Homo sapiens: one gene and its partners. The protein of the gene in region 2 purifies or fractionates together with the protein of the main gene of each other region. This does not show direct contact. Each region holds a gene or a part of one and is shown on either strand. Other genes may lie near its edges.

What was found. The genes of interacting proteins can lie anywhere in the genome.
Region 1: the proteins of RNASEH2A (region 2) and HEMK2 purify together in Homo sapiens (affinity purification with mass spectrometry; one large-scale study listed by BioGRID and IntAct). This does not show direct contact.
Region 3: the proteins of RNASEH2A (region 2) and TTF1 purify together in Homo sapiens (affinity purification with mass spectrometry; one large-scale study listed by BioGRID and IntAct). This does not show direct contact.
Region 4: the proteins of RNASEH2A (region 2) and IPO7 fractionate together in Homo sapiens (co-fractionation; one large-scale study listed by BioGRID). This does not show direct contact.

The regions. Positions count from the first base shown.
Region 1 is NC_000021.9:28,875,368-28,878,867, forward strand, and holds part of HEMK2 (methyltransferase HEMK2), read right to left. Parts: intron 2,967-3,500; coding exon 2,825-2,966; intron 1,125-2,824; coding exon 1,018-1,124; 3' UTR 1-1,017. UniProt on the Homo sapiens protein: Methyltransferase that can methylate proteins and, to a lower extent, arsenic.
Region 2 is NC_000019.10:12,811,862-12,814,140, reverse strand, and holds the end of RNASEH2A (ribonuclease H2 subunit A), read right to left. Parts: intron 1,059-2,279; coding exon 935-1,058; intron 814-934; coding exon 675-813; 3' UTR 501-674; downstream 1-500. UniProt on the Homo sapiens protein: Catalytic subunit of RNase HII, an endonuclease that specifically degrades the RNA of RNA:DNA hybrids. Participates in DNA replication, possibly by mediating the removal of lagging-strand Okazaki fragment RNA primers during DNA replication.
Region 3 is NC_000009.12:132,382,841-132,386,340, forward strand, and holds part of TTF1 (transcription termination factor 1), read right to left. Parts: intron 1-3,500. UniProt on the Homo sapiens protein: Multifunctional nucleolar protein that terminates ribosomal gene transcription, mediates replication fork arrest and regulates RNA polymerase I transcription on chromatin.
Region 4 is NC_000011.10:9,422,652-9,426,151, reverse strand, and holds part of IPO7 (importin-7), read right to left. Parts: intron 3,147-3,500; coding exon 3,012-3,146; intron 2,376-3,011; coding exon 2,276-2,375; intron 1,239-2,275; coding exon 1,162-1,238; intron 1,007-1,161; coding exon 890-1,006; intron 1-889. UniProt on the Homo sapiens protein: Functions in nuclear protein import, either by acting as autonomous nuclear transport receptor or as an adapter-like protein in association with the importin-beta subunit KPNB1.

The DNA.
Region 1 (3,500 bases), on a different chromosome or scaffold from region 2:
GTTTCTCAAAAAGAGACTAGTTATTTGTTGGTAATGGCACGGCTTTGCTCTAAAATCCTAAACCAAGATTCACCTATAGGGACCTGCCAGAAGCTTCAAACAGCATCCCTATCTGCCACTGCCACTGAAACACCACTGGATCTGCTGGATCATATGACCCAAGTGGCAGAGCAGCTTGCACAGCAGCCTGGACCTGTTGCAGACTCTTTTCTTGTTCTGGGCCCTACTCAAAACTAGCAGCTTTTTGAGTCAATTGGTAAACAGGCTGGTATAACATAATGAAATTGGAAAATGTTGCCTCCAAAACCCAAAGAGGCCCACTAAGTATTGTGCCTCTTTCTTGGTTTTAAGAGCAGCAAGATGCAAGTACTTATCCTTCACCGTAGAAGAAATATCCTAACATGCCCCATGTCACTGGATCCCTACCAATTTCACTAAGGTAGAAGGCCCTTGAATTGTAGTCATATTTATTTCCTACCCTCTGATGCAAATGTCTTTCCACTAAGTCTAATGTAGTTCCTACTTCTTGCTCACTAGGTCAAATCAGCATAATGTCATCGATATAACCAATCAGTGTAATATTTTGTGGAAGGGAAAGGTAATCAAGATCCCCATGAACTGAATTATGACATAGAGTTGGAGAGCTGATACACACCGGAGATACGACAATGAAGGTGTGTTGCTGGCCCTGCCATCTGAAAGCAAACTGCCTTTATGGACTGGTATGAAAAAAAAGACATTTGCCAGATCAATTCCATTGCCTTACCACATAATGCTGAAATAAATATTTCATACATAATTTTTATATTTAAAATGCAAACTATAAATATAATACACATATTTACTTGTACTTGTGCAAATAATTCTATAGGCCTGACTGAAAGGGAATGTTCCACCTTTCTACCTTTTTTTAATGACAAATTTCTGATAAAATTCCTTGTTACCTAATGAATGACTTCAGTTTCAAAATATGCTAAATGCATTCAGTTTCCAGTAGTTCTGGGCACACACTGTATGCTAAGACTTGGTGAACTTGAGGACTGAAAGAGTTTCTTGGCCTGCTTGTCTGGAAAGTGCAGTGGTTCCTTGCAGACCTTTTGTCTTCATTATTTTCAAAATTTCTTCTAAAATAAAAATCAAAAGGTAAAATCCATTAAGCCATTTGGTAGTGTGCATGATCAATAAGCAATTTAATAAGTTAAACACAGATGATTTATAAATTGTATTCATCTGACAAAACAATGTATATCAAATAAATGTCTACTAAAGTGAACTTGGTCTTCAGCTAAATGGGAGCACTTGGTATTTTCAAAGTGTTGCTGGTGAGTCTAATCAGAATAAATGGCTTGCTTTGCAGTCACAGCCTACTTTTGACTCAGCAGAAACATTAATTGTCATTGTTATTATAGCAAGTGATCAGTTTTTTAGTTGATTGGCTCCAATCTCTGCCCTATGTCTTTCTCTTTGGATGACAAAAGCCAATGAAGGTGTGGACAAACTGAATAGTGACATTGCACAGTGAGAGTGAAAGAAGTAGCTTATTTCTTTCAGGCATATTGAAAAAAGAAAACCTTCCTTATAAATAAATAAAACTAAGAAGACTGAACTAAGACAATGGAGGGAGGGAGGGAGGGAGGGAGGAAGGAAGGAAGGAAGGAAGGAAGGAAGGAGGGAGGGAGGGAGGGAGGGAGGGAAGGAGGGAGGGAAGGGAAGGGAAGGGAGGGAAAGGAAAGGACGCATGGATGGACAGAAGGAAGAAAAAAAGAGAAGAGAAGAGAGAGAGAGAAAGAAAGAGAAAGAAAGAAAGAAAGAGAGGGAGGGAGGAAGGAAGGGAGGGAAGGGAGAGAAAGGAAGGGAAGGAAGGAAAGGAAGGGAAGGGAAGGGAAGAGAAGGGAAGGAAGGAAGGAAGGAAGGAAGGAAGGAAGGAAGGAAGAGAGAGAGAAAGAGAGAAAGAAAGAAAAAGAAAGAAGGAAGGAAGGAAAGAAAAAAAAGAAAGAAGAGAAGGGAAGGGAAGAAAGAAGGAAGGAAGGGAAGAAAAAAAAGAAGGAAGGAAAGAAAGAGAGAGAGAAGGAAGGACAGATGGACAGAAGGAAGGAAAAAAAGAAGAGAAGAGAAAGAGAAAGAAAAAGAGACAAAGATGGACAGAAGGAAAAAAGAAAAGAGAAGAGAAGAGAGAGAGATAAAGAAAAAGAAAAGGAAAGGAAAGAAGAAAGGAAGAAAGAAAGATGGAGAGAAGGAAGGAAAAAAAGAGAAAAGAGAGAAATAGGAAGGAAGGAAGGGAGAAAGACAAGAGAAAACTAGCAATCATGTGATTTGAAGGGCTGAGGACTTTTAGTATAAGCTGAAAATCAAACTTGAAGTGTACAGAAAAAGAGAGGAAAGATTATGGTCAATTTAGTTATAAAGCAATCTGAAAACAAAGATATAAAAATCTATACAATTAAATAGCTTTCATGATAAAACTCCTAACGAACTAAAGAGTACAGCACAATTGTCAAGGGCATGAAGACTAGAGGGTAGAGAGAAAATTCATAATACTGAGAGTGAGGTGTTAGAAAAAAACATTAGAGATTTTTATACTTGAATATTAGGTTATAAACGGGGAAAAGAGAAGATAATACTTTTTAAAATCAGAAAAATTTACCTCTGAAAACCTCTTTTCTCTTTCAACATAAATTTATGCCTGTATTAGCTACTGTCAGTGATTAACTGTTTTAAGTGATTCATTAACATGCCAGGTTATCTTATAAATTAAAGCATTTTACATTATTAACTTTTGATTTCAGCAACATAAATGCTTAAACAATAAATTGGTCTGTATTACCTGGGTTGTTTTCTTTAATGGTAACTAAATAGAATAATCCTCTTGGTGAAAGGAGATCTGGAACCAGGGGAAAAAACCTGTCCATGACTTCCCGACCATTTCTGCCACCAGCCCAAGCTGCCTCTATTCCGTGACTTCCTACCTGTGAACAATTAGAAAGAATGTTTTCTTTTAACTCAAGTTTGATTTAGATCACAAACTGAATCTTTTTGACAAGTAATATCACCAAAAAAGTATATATTTTGCATTTTACTGCTGACGAAGGAGCAGTCAAGTTGAATCTAAGTTTCATCATTTTCTAGTGTGTAACCTTGGATAAATTAGTAATCCTGTTTGTGAATTACTTTCCTCTTTTATCTGTAAAATTAGAAAAAGAATAGTTCCATATGTACAATTAGAAAAATAATAAGTGGATAAAAAATGTTTTTATTAATAAAAAAATATTTTTATCCACTGTTAGGAATAAATAAGGAAGTATATTTAAAGTTTTGAGAACATTGCCCTGCGTATATCAAGGGCTTAATAAGTTATTACTATTAATACAATGCTTAACATTGAGAGACATGGGTAGCTTTTGTACTTAACACAGAAAGAAGCTAGAAGGAACAGCTTGTTTTATAAGAGACCTACTGTACAGAAACAAAGTTTCAAAATGTCCCAATGCATCTGGCCCTCT
Region 2 (2,279 bases):
CGCTTGAACCCAGGAGGCAGAGGTTGCAGTGAGCCAAAATTGCATCACTGCACTCCAGCCTGGTGACAAAGTGAGACTCTGTCTCAAATTAAAAAAAAAAGAAAGAAAGAAAAGAAAAGAAAATTAGCCGGGTGTGGTGGTGTGCACCTGTAATCCCAGCTACTCAGGAGGCTGAGGCAGGGGAATTGCTTGAACCAGGGAGGTGGAGGTTGCAGTGAGCCAAGATTGTGCCATGGTACTCCAGCCTGGGCAACAGGAGACTGTGTCTCAAAAAAAAAAAAAAATTAGTTGGGCATGGCACACGCCTATAGTCCCAGCTGCTTGGGAAATTGAGGCAGGAGAATCGCTTGAACCTGGAAGGCAGAGGTTGCAGTGAGCTGAGATTGCCCCATTCTACTCCAGCCTGGGTGACAGAGTGAGACTTCGTCTCTCAAAAAAATAAAATAAAATAAAATAAAATAAATAAAATTTAAAAATGAAAAAAATCAAACCAAATAAAATTAATCAACCAACACCCATTCTATTTAAGGTTCCAAAAGGAAGTAGCTGGACCCGGCTGCAGAGCACACTCCCACCTTGCTTCTGTCCCAAAAGTACATCCCCTACGTGTGGTTCTCCTTAAACAATTTTAATGTCTGGGTTGGGGAAGCAGGTAGAGCGCGTAGAGGCAGCTGCTAGAGGCTGGTTGCTGACTCCAGGCCGCGTTCCAGGAAATATCGGTGGGAAGAACGGGGACGGGCTTGGGACCCTTCATTGAGGAAGTAGGATGTGATCTTCCTGAGTCCCTCCTGATTCTCGGATGCTGAGTCCTCCCTGTGGGAGAGAGGTGATGACAGTGACCACTTACACAGGGAGCAACCCTCTCAGGCAGGGCTGAACGCTGGCCTCCCTCCTTCCTTCCCTATAGCACCCCCAGGACATCCATGACACCCACCATATAACATCTTCCGCCTCTTTCTCCAGGATGGTCTGGGCCGTGCGCCAGCTGAACCGGACAAACTGGGGGAAGCCGAACACAGGCTCCACGTGCTCCTTCAACCACGCTTTTGTCTTGGGATCTGGGGTAGGGTGGGCAATGGTGACAGTCCAAGTTGCACCATAACATTCAAGCTCCCTGCCACTCTTTTTTTTTTCTTTGAGATGGAGTCCCACTCTGTAGCCAGGCTGGAGTGCAGTGGCGCGATCTCAGCTCACTGCAACCTCCACCTCCCGGATTCAAGCGATTCTCCTGCCTCAGCCTCCCAAGTAGCTGGGACTACAGGCGCATGCCACCATGCCCAGCTAAATTTTGTGTTTTTAGTAGTGACGAGGTTTCACCATGTTGGCCAGGATGGTCTCAATTGCTTGACCTCGTGATCTACCCCCCTCGGCCTCCCAAAGTGCTGGGATTACAGGCATGAGCCACCACGCCCGGCCTCCTTGCCGCTCTTCTAAGGCTTCCTCCTGAGTACCTGGGGCACCTCCTATGGTCTGAAGCACCTTCTTGCCACAGGACCTTTACCTGGCCAAGAGCTGCTAAAAGGGCAGTGCAGGGAGACTGCCTCTGAGACATCTCCTTGACCTCCAAGAACAAGTCATTAAACATTTTTATTTTATTTACTTATTTTTTGAAATGGAGTCTTGCTCTGTCACCCAGGCTGTAGTGCAATGGTGCGATCTCGGCTCACTGCAACCTCCGCCTCCCAGGTTCAAGCGATTCTCCTGCCTCAGCCTCCCAAGTAGCTGGGACTACAGCCACCCACCACCATACCTGGCTAATTTTTGTATTTTTAGTAGAGACGGGGTTTCACCATATTGGACAGGCAGGCTGGTCTCAAACTCCTGACCTCAGGTGATCCACCCACCTCAGCCTCCCAAAGTGCTGGGATTACAGGTGTAAACACCACACCCAGCCTTTTTATTTTTTTGAGATAGGGTCTCGCTCTATTACCCAGGCTGGAGTGCAGTGACATTATCACAGCTCAATGCAACCTCTGCCTCCCAGGCTCAAGCCATCCTCTCACCTCAGCCTCCCAAGTAGCTGGGACTACAGGTGCGCACCACCACACCTAATTTTTGTATTTTTTGTAGAGATGGGGTCTTGTCATATTGCCCAGGCTGGTTGTGAATTCCTGAGTTCACATGATCTACCTGCCTCTGTCTCTTAAAATGCTAGGATTACGGGCATGAGCCACCTGGCCCAGCCTGTCATTAAATATTATTATTATTATTATTATTATTATTTTGAGATGGAATTTTGCTCATTTCCCAGGCTGGAGTGCAATTATGCGATCTCGGCT
Region 3 (3,500 bases), on a different chromosome or scaffold from region 2:
GGATCACTTGAGGTAAGGAGTTTGAGACCAGCCTGGCCAACATGGTGAAACCTTGTCTCTATTAAAAATACAAAAATTAGCCAGGTATGGTGGCAGGTACCTGTAATCCCAGCTATTCAGAGGCTGAGACAGGAGAACTGCTTGAACCCGGAAGGTGGAGGTTGCAGGGAACCGAGATCACGCTGTTGCACTCCAGCCTGGGCAACAAGAGTGAAAATCCGTCTCAAAAAAAAAAAAATTAACTAATTAAAAAAAAAACTAGCCAGGCAGGGTGGTGCATGCCTCTAATTCCAGCTATTTAGGTGGCTGAGGCACAAGAATTGCTTGAACCTGGGAGGCAGAGGGTGCAGTGAGCTGAGATCACACCATTGTAACTCCAGCCTGGGCAACAGAGTAAGACTCTTGTCTTCAAAAAAAAAAAAAAAAAGGACACTAAGGAAATGGAACAATTATTAAAGGGGGAAAATGCTATCAAGGACATTACTGGGACAACTGGTGAAATCTGAATGTGGACTATGTTTTAGAGGGTGTACTATATCAATGTGAAACTTCCTGATTCTCGATTGTACTATGGTTATGTAAAATAACATCCTTGCTTGGGAAGTGGTATCTGCCACTAACTCTTGAATGGTTATGGGAAAAACCGTATTCCCTTGGAGGAGGGAGAGAGGGATGATAAAGTGAACGTAGCAGAATGTTCAGAAGAGGCGACTATGGGTAAAGGGGATGCGGGGTTCTTTCTGTTACTCTTGCAACTTGTTTAGCTTTTTGAAGCCTTTAAGAGACTTTGCATACATTTCATTTGCCTTTCTTGGGTGTCTTCGGTGGCAGGTGGGCTGGAGGGAGGGCTGGTCTGATTTATTTGGTCCAGAGCACAGAGACTGGAAGTCTCGAATAAACACACACATTGCAGCTTTCCTGTTCTGTGGCGCTGGCACACCACCCTGCAACCACGCAGTGTTTCCTCACCCAAGACTGTATCTTGGCGCTTTCTTTGCCCCACCACCGAGGGGCTTTCTCATGATTTTTTGTAGCTATAAAGAATGTCACTATATGGGTAAAATACATATATAGCCAGTCCCCTATTAACAGGCCTTTTGCAGTCAGTTACTCTGTATACAAGTCATTTCATGTATGTGTGAAGTTGTTTTGTAGAATGTATTTCTAGAAATGGAATTACTAGAATTATTTGAATTTTGAATGGTACTAAGGCTGCAAAGTATGTAAAATTTACCAAAACAGATAACAGTAATTGGAGGGAGTGAATGTAGATGTTTAATAAGGACGGCTGGATTTTGACAGTTGCTGAACTGGGGTGATGGGTACATGAAGCTTCATTTATTTTGTATCTGTCTAAAATTTTCCTAATAAAGTTTCTGAAAAAAATAATTGGGCATTGCTAATAAAGCAGTACTTAGAAGAAAACATATGGCCTTAAATGTATATTACAAAGAAAGAAAAATGGAAAATGAGCTAAGAACCCATCTCAAGAAGTTGAAGAACAGCAGCAAAATAAACTCAAAGAGAGCTGAAGGGAGGGCGTGATAAAGAGCTGACATTAGAATAATCACAAGATAGGGTCAACGCAATCAAAGCTGGTGCTTTGAAAAGACAATCTCTGGTAACTCCTATTCAAGCAGTAACAAAAGAGAGTAGGTATAAATAGCCAACATTAGCCATCAGAACATCACTCAGATCCTGCAGACATTTTGCATAAACCATCTACGGAAAATAGATACTGGTTTCCTGTAGGGCTACGCGTGGCTGGTGAGTGGTAAGGGGACACTTTTCACTGTGTTTCCTTTCAGGTTTCTTTCTTTCTTTCTTTTCTTTTGAGATGGAGTCTTGCTCTGTTGCCCAGGCTGGAGTGCAATGGCATGATCTCGGCTTACTGCAACCTCCGCCTCCTGGGTTCAAGCGATTCTCCTGCCTCAGCCTCCTGAGTAGCTGGGACTACAGGCACCTGCCATCATGCCTGGCTAATTTTTGTATTTTTGTAGAGACGGAGTTGAACCATGTTGGCCAGGCTGGTCTTGAACTCCTGACCTCAGGTGATCTGCCCACCTTGGCCTCCCAAAGTGCTGGGATTACAGGCAAGAGCCACCGTGCCCAGCCTACGTTTCTTTAATTCTGGACTACGTAATCTATTACCTATTCCAGAAAAACAGCAAAATCAAACTGAACAGTCAAGTCCTTTTTCCTTATGGGTGGGGCATGATATTCAGTTCTGTATTTGAATTGTTACACACAACTAAAACGTTCTAACTGGGAACCGACCAAGTCATTTAACCAGCGCTAAAGCACGGGGTCTCGGCAGGGTAACACATCTGAGTCACCTGGAGCTCTGAACAATCCTGACAGCCAGACCCCACACCAGACCAATCCCATTCATGCGAAGCCAGACCCCACACCAGACCAATCCCATTCACGTGGCACTGGTATTTTTTAAAAGTTCCCCAGATGATTTTGAAGTGAGAGCTGGGCTGAAAACCAGAGAATTGCTAGTGTTTACAAAGTTCCAAATTGGGTACACAAAGGTAACTGGAACTCCTGGATGTCTGGAGCGTGTGCTGAGTTGTCAACTGTCTGAAGTCCCCTGAGGCGTGGGAGTCTGGCCTGCACACGCACCCAGCCCATCGCTGCCGTCATTTTACTCACTGTTCTGGGCCACCTGGTCCCTTTCCAGTCCCTTGAATGTGCCCAGCCAGTGCTGGCTCAAGGTGTCCGCATTCACTACTCTCTGTCCGAACATCTTCAGTCTCATCCCCGCATGGCTACCCTGCCACCGCTTCTGCTTCCATAGTCTTCCCTAACCACTCTATCTGATTGCCCCCGACGTCCCTTCTACTCTATTTTTGTTTTCTTTTTGGTACCATGCTATCTGAAATGAGCTTATTTGTTTACAGTCTCTTCCCAGAACTAAATGTGAGTTCCTACTCTGTGCCTGGTATACAGAAGGTAGTCAATAATTATTATTAGTTTGATATCGTTATCATCAATGTAGTTTTTAGGTTAATTCTATACTATACAAAACTTGGCATTTGTGTCAGCAGAATGGATGCTCTACCAGGCAAGGAACTTGTCTTTTGTTCAATGCTGTATCCCCAGAGCCTAGAAAAATGCCTGGCATATAGGCACCTCGTATTTGGTGGGTGAAGAGTAATTCTGAGCCTTTGATTTTTCAATAATTGGAATTGATAAAAGGTATGTACTGGGAAAATTCACTTCATTGTTACTAAAGTACCTATAATATCACCTCCAATGCCTGCCAAGGTCAACTCGACTGTATGGTAATACTTCCTTACACGATTATTTTTCCACTGGAAAACTGAAATAGGAGGGAGGTGGGTGGGCCATAGGTATTATGCTCTAGCTAAAATCTGTAATCACAAAACACCTGAGGCGTGATGATCTATGTGACACTAAAAAAAGGGAAGAAAAATGAAAAACATATCCAACTAGTGATGTATTTAGTGTCATGAAAACCTGATCTACCTAGC
Region 4 (3,500 bases), on a different chromosome or scaffold from region 2:
GAGTTCCTTCTGGGGGTGATAGTTATACAACTGTGAATAAACTAAAAACCACTGAGTTGTACACTCCATAAGGTTGTTATTTTTTATTTTTTTATTTTTTTTTGAGACGGAGTCTCTGTCGCCTGGACTGGAGCATGGAGTGCAGTGGCATGACCTCGGCTCACTGCAGCCTCCGCCTCCCAAGTTCAAGTGATTCTCCTGCCTCAGCCTCCTAAGTAGCTGGGATTACAGGTGCCCACCACCATGCCCAGCTGATTTTTTTTTTTTTTTTTGGAGACAGAGTCTCACTCTGTCGCCCAGGCTGGATTGCAGTGGCGTGATCTCGGCTCACTGCAAACTCCACGTCCCGGGTTCAAGCCATTCTCCTGCCTCAGCCTCCTGAGTAGCTGGGACTACAGGCGCCAGCCACCATGCCCGGCTAATTTTTTATTTTTATTTTTAGTAGAGACGGGGTTTCACTGTGTTAGCCAGGATGGTCTCGATCTCCTGACCTCATGATCCACCCACCTCGGTCTCCCAAAATGCTGGGATTACAGGCGTGAGCCATCACGCCCGGCGGATTTTTGTATTTTTAGTAGAGACGGGGTTTCACCATGTTGGCCAGGCTGGTCTTCAACTGCTGACCTCAGGTGATCCCCCCGCCCTGGCCTCCCAAATAGCTGGGATTACAGGCATAAGCCACCACACCCGGCCTATTTTTTATCCTTATAGAGATGGGGGTATCACTATGTTGCCCAGGCTGTTCTCAAACTCCTGGGCTCAGGCAATCTGCCTGCCTCAGCATCCCGAAAGTGCTGGGATTATAGAAGTGAGCCACTGTGCCTGGCTGGCTATTTATTTTTTAAAACTACTTGCATAGTCATGCACATACAAACACACTAAAGAATACCTTCAGAAGTATTTCAGCTAAAGAGCCAATCATATGCAGGGCTCCATCTTTTTTTCGAGGGTCAGCATTTGGTTCTGTAAGAATCTGGTAACAAAATCCCATAGTCTTTTGCAGTACCTAGATTAAAAGAGAAAAGTATTGTTACTGAATAGGCCAACAGTCCTTAAAAAACATACTAACAAAATGACTCACATGACTAACATTTAAAAAGTGTATAGTTGAATAAATTTTAAATAATACAGAAAAGTTATCTAAACATTAAATAAGCCTACCTCTTTCCTCTTACTACAGGCTGTAAACAAAAGTGTCTGGGCAGCAGTGGTAGGAGAAATGAAATCTTCAAACACATCTAGAGAACAAGTTTAAAATTAAGACAATAAACATTAATTTCTTCAACAAAGCATTAAAAAACATGCTTAATCTTTACATAAGGTATGAAAATGATCCCAGATCCCTTTATAATTTTGCAAAAGCAGAATTCAATGTCTTTTCTGTACAAATTGAATGCTTTTGTTTGTTTTGAGATGGAGTCTCGCTCTGTCACTCAGGCTGGAGTGCAGTGGGCGATCTCGGCTCATTGTAACCTCCATCTCCCAGGTTCAAGCAATTCTCCTGCCTCAGCCTCCCAAGTAGCTGGTTTACAGGTGCCTGCCACCACGCCCGGCTAATTTTTGTATTTTTAGTAGAGATGGGGTTTCACTATATTGGTCAGGCTGGTCTCAAACTCCTGACCTCAAACGATCTGCCTGCCTCGGCCTCCCAACACGTTGGGATTTACAGGCCTTAGCCACCGCACCTGGCCTGTGAAAATTAAATGTTAATCCATGAATTCCTCCTAATAGCTTTCATTTTTATTTATTAACTCAGAACTCAGCAGTTTAAATCGTATGTATGAAACACTACTGATGTGAGAATTTTCACAACAGGGTCACAAAAGTACAAGCTGCAAAAAGCACAAATGACTTGGTAAGAATAAGGACCAATATTCAACATTATTAGCCAAATTACAATTCTTTAGTTCTGTGCAAGGACTTCATGTGACACCAGCTTCCTAGATGTGTTTTCTCATTTCCCACTCATATGATGGCTAACATAAGATCCAAAAGTATAGTTAAGACATTTAGTGTTGAGGTGTAATCTTGAATATCTAACAGTTTTGGTATTCAGTAATAAAAACTTAACAGTATTGAATTTGTGTCTGCCAAAAATAAGATTATCATTATCAAATGTCATAATTAATAAATAGCCCCAAAAAGGACTACACAAGGGATCAATTACATTAAAACAACAAAGAAGATACATAATACCCCCTAGGTTGGCTACATGCAATCACTGTAATCTTAATTACTGACATTTTTTGTTTCTAAAAACGTGAAAATTCCTTACCAAACTTCATGCGTATATATTCGTAAGGGTCTTCTTGCCAAAGTTCCTCATCAGCATCTGTATAGCACATCAATGGAAAAATAACATCTTGGATAATGCCCTGCAATTTAAAAGTTAAGAAAACAATAACCATCAGTTTTCAAATTTAAACCTTCAAATTTCCTTTAAGTATTAAAACCAAAGTAACACTATATGTATTTTAAAGCTTAATATCAAACGTTAGTAATGCATTTAATGTGTTCTAAGATCAACTATCAAACTACATGTACTTCCCCTTTCTGTAACAAGTAACTTTAAGATATATGTGTACAAAGGTCGCAATTAAGTATTCTAAATATATATAGTCTATAAAATTCTACAGCTCTAAATAAAGCACATAAATTATTCATAGAAATAGCAGGTAAGTCATTTATACTAGAAATGAATCTGGTGAGATAAAGTCCCTTGGCTACTCCAAATTACATGATAAAATATAATCATAGTCCAATATTAAGAACTTAAATTGCAAGTTTGAAGACAACAGTTTTGGATTAAAAGATAAGTTGAATATTCACAAGATACCTCTCATAACTTTATGTCACTGTCTTATCTCCTTTTTCTGCTATACTCTCAAAACAATCACCAGAAGTAGTCTAAGTAACACAACTCAACAAACATGCAATTTTTCAACCTTTATGGCAATTGATGTCATTTCTATTATATTTACTATAAAAACATTTCAGATAAAAATTATTACTTGTATATGGGGCTTCAGATTCTTCCAGGTGAGAGCATGAGAAACTCCTTGATTAATATAATTTAATGTCTGTTGTAAAACTCGAGGAGCCATATATTGCTTCTCCTTGTACTGATATAACACCTTCAATAAAACCTTGGAAAAAAATTTTCGATCACAAATCAATGTTCAAATAGAAATTTCAACCACTTACAAGCCAGTAAAAACAGTTAACACATATTTTAATGACAAGCTCATCATCAAGAAAAACAACCGTATACTTTGAAAAATAATTTAACTCATTTCTGATTAAGAATGAAAAGAAGAGAAAACTATATACTATCTTCGTTTTTCTGGGGTTTTTTTTGTTGTTGTTGTTAGAGACAGTGTCTCACTACGTTGCCCCGGCTGGTCTCTAACTCCTGGCCTCAAGCGATTCTCCCATCTCAGCCTCCCAAAGTGCTGGGATTACAGGTGTAAGTCACCACACCTAACCCATTTGCTACCTAT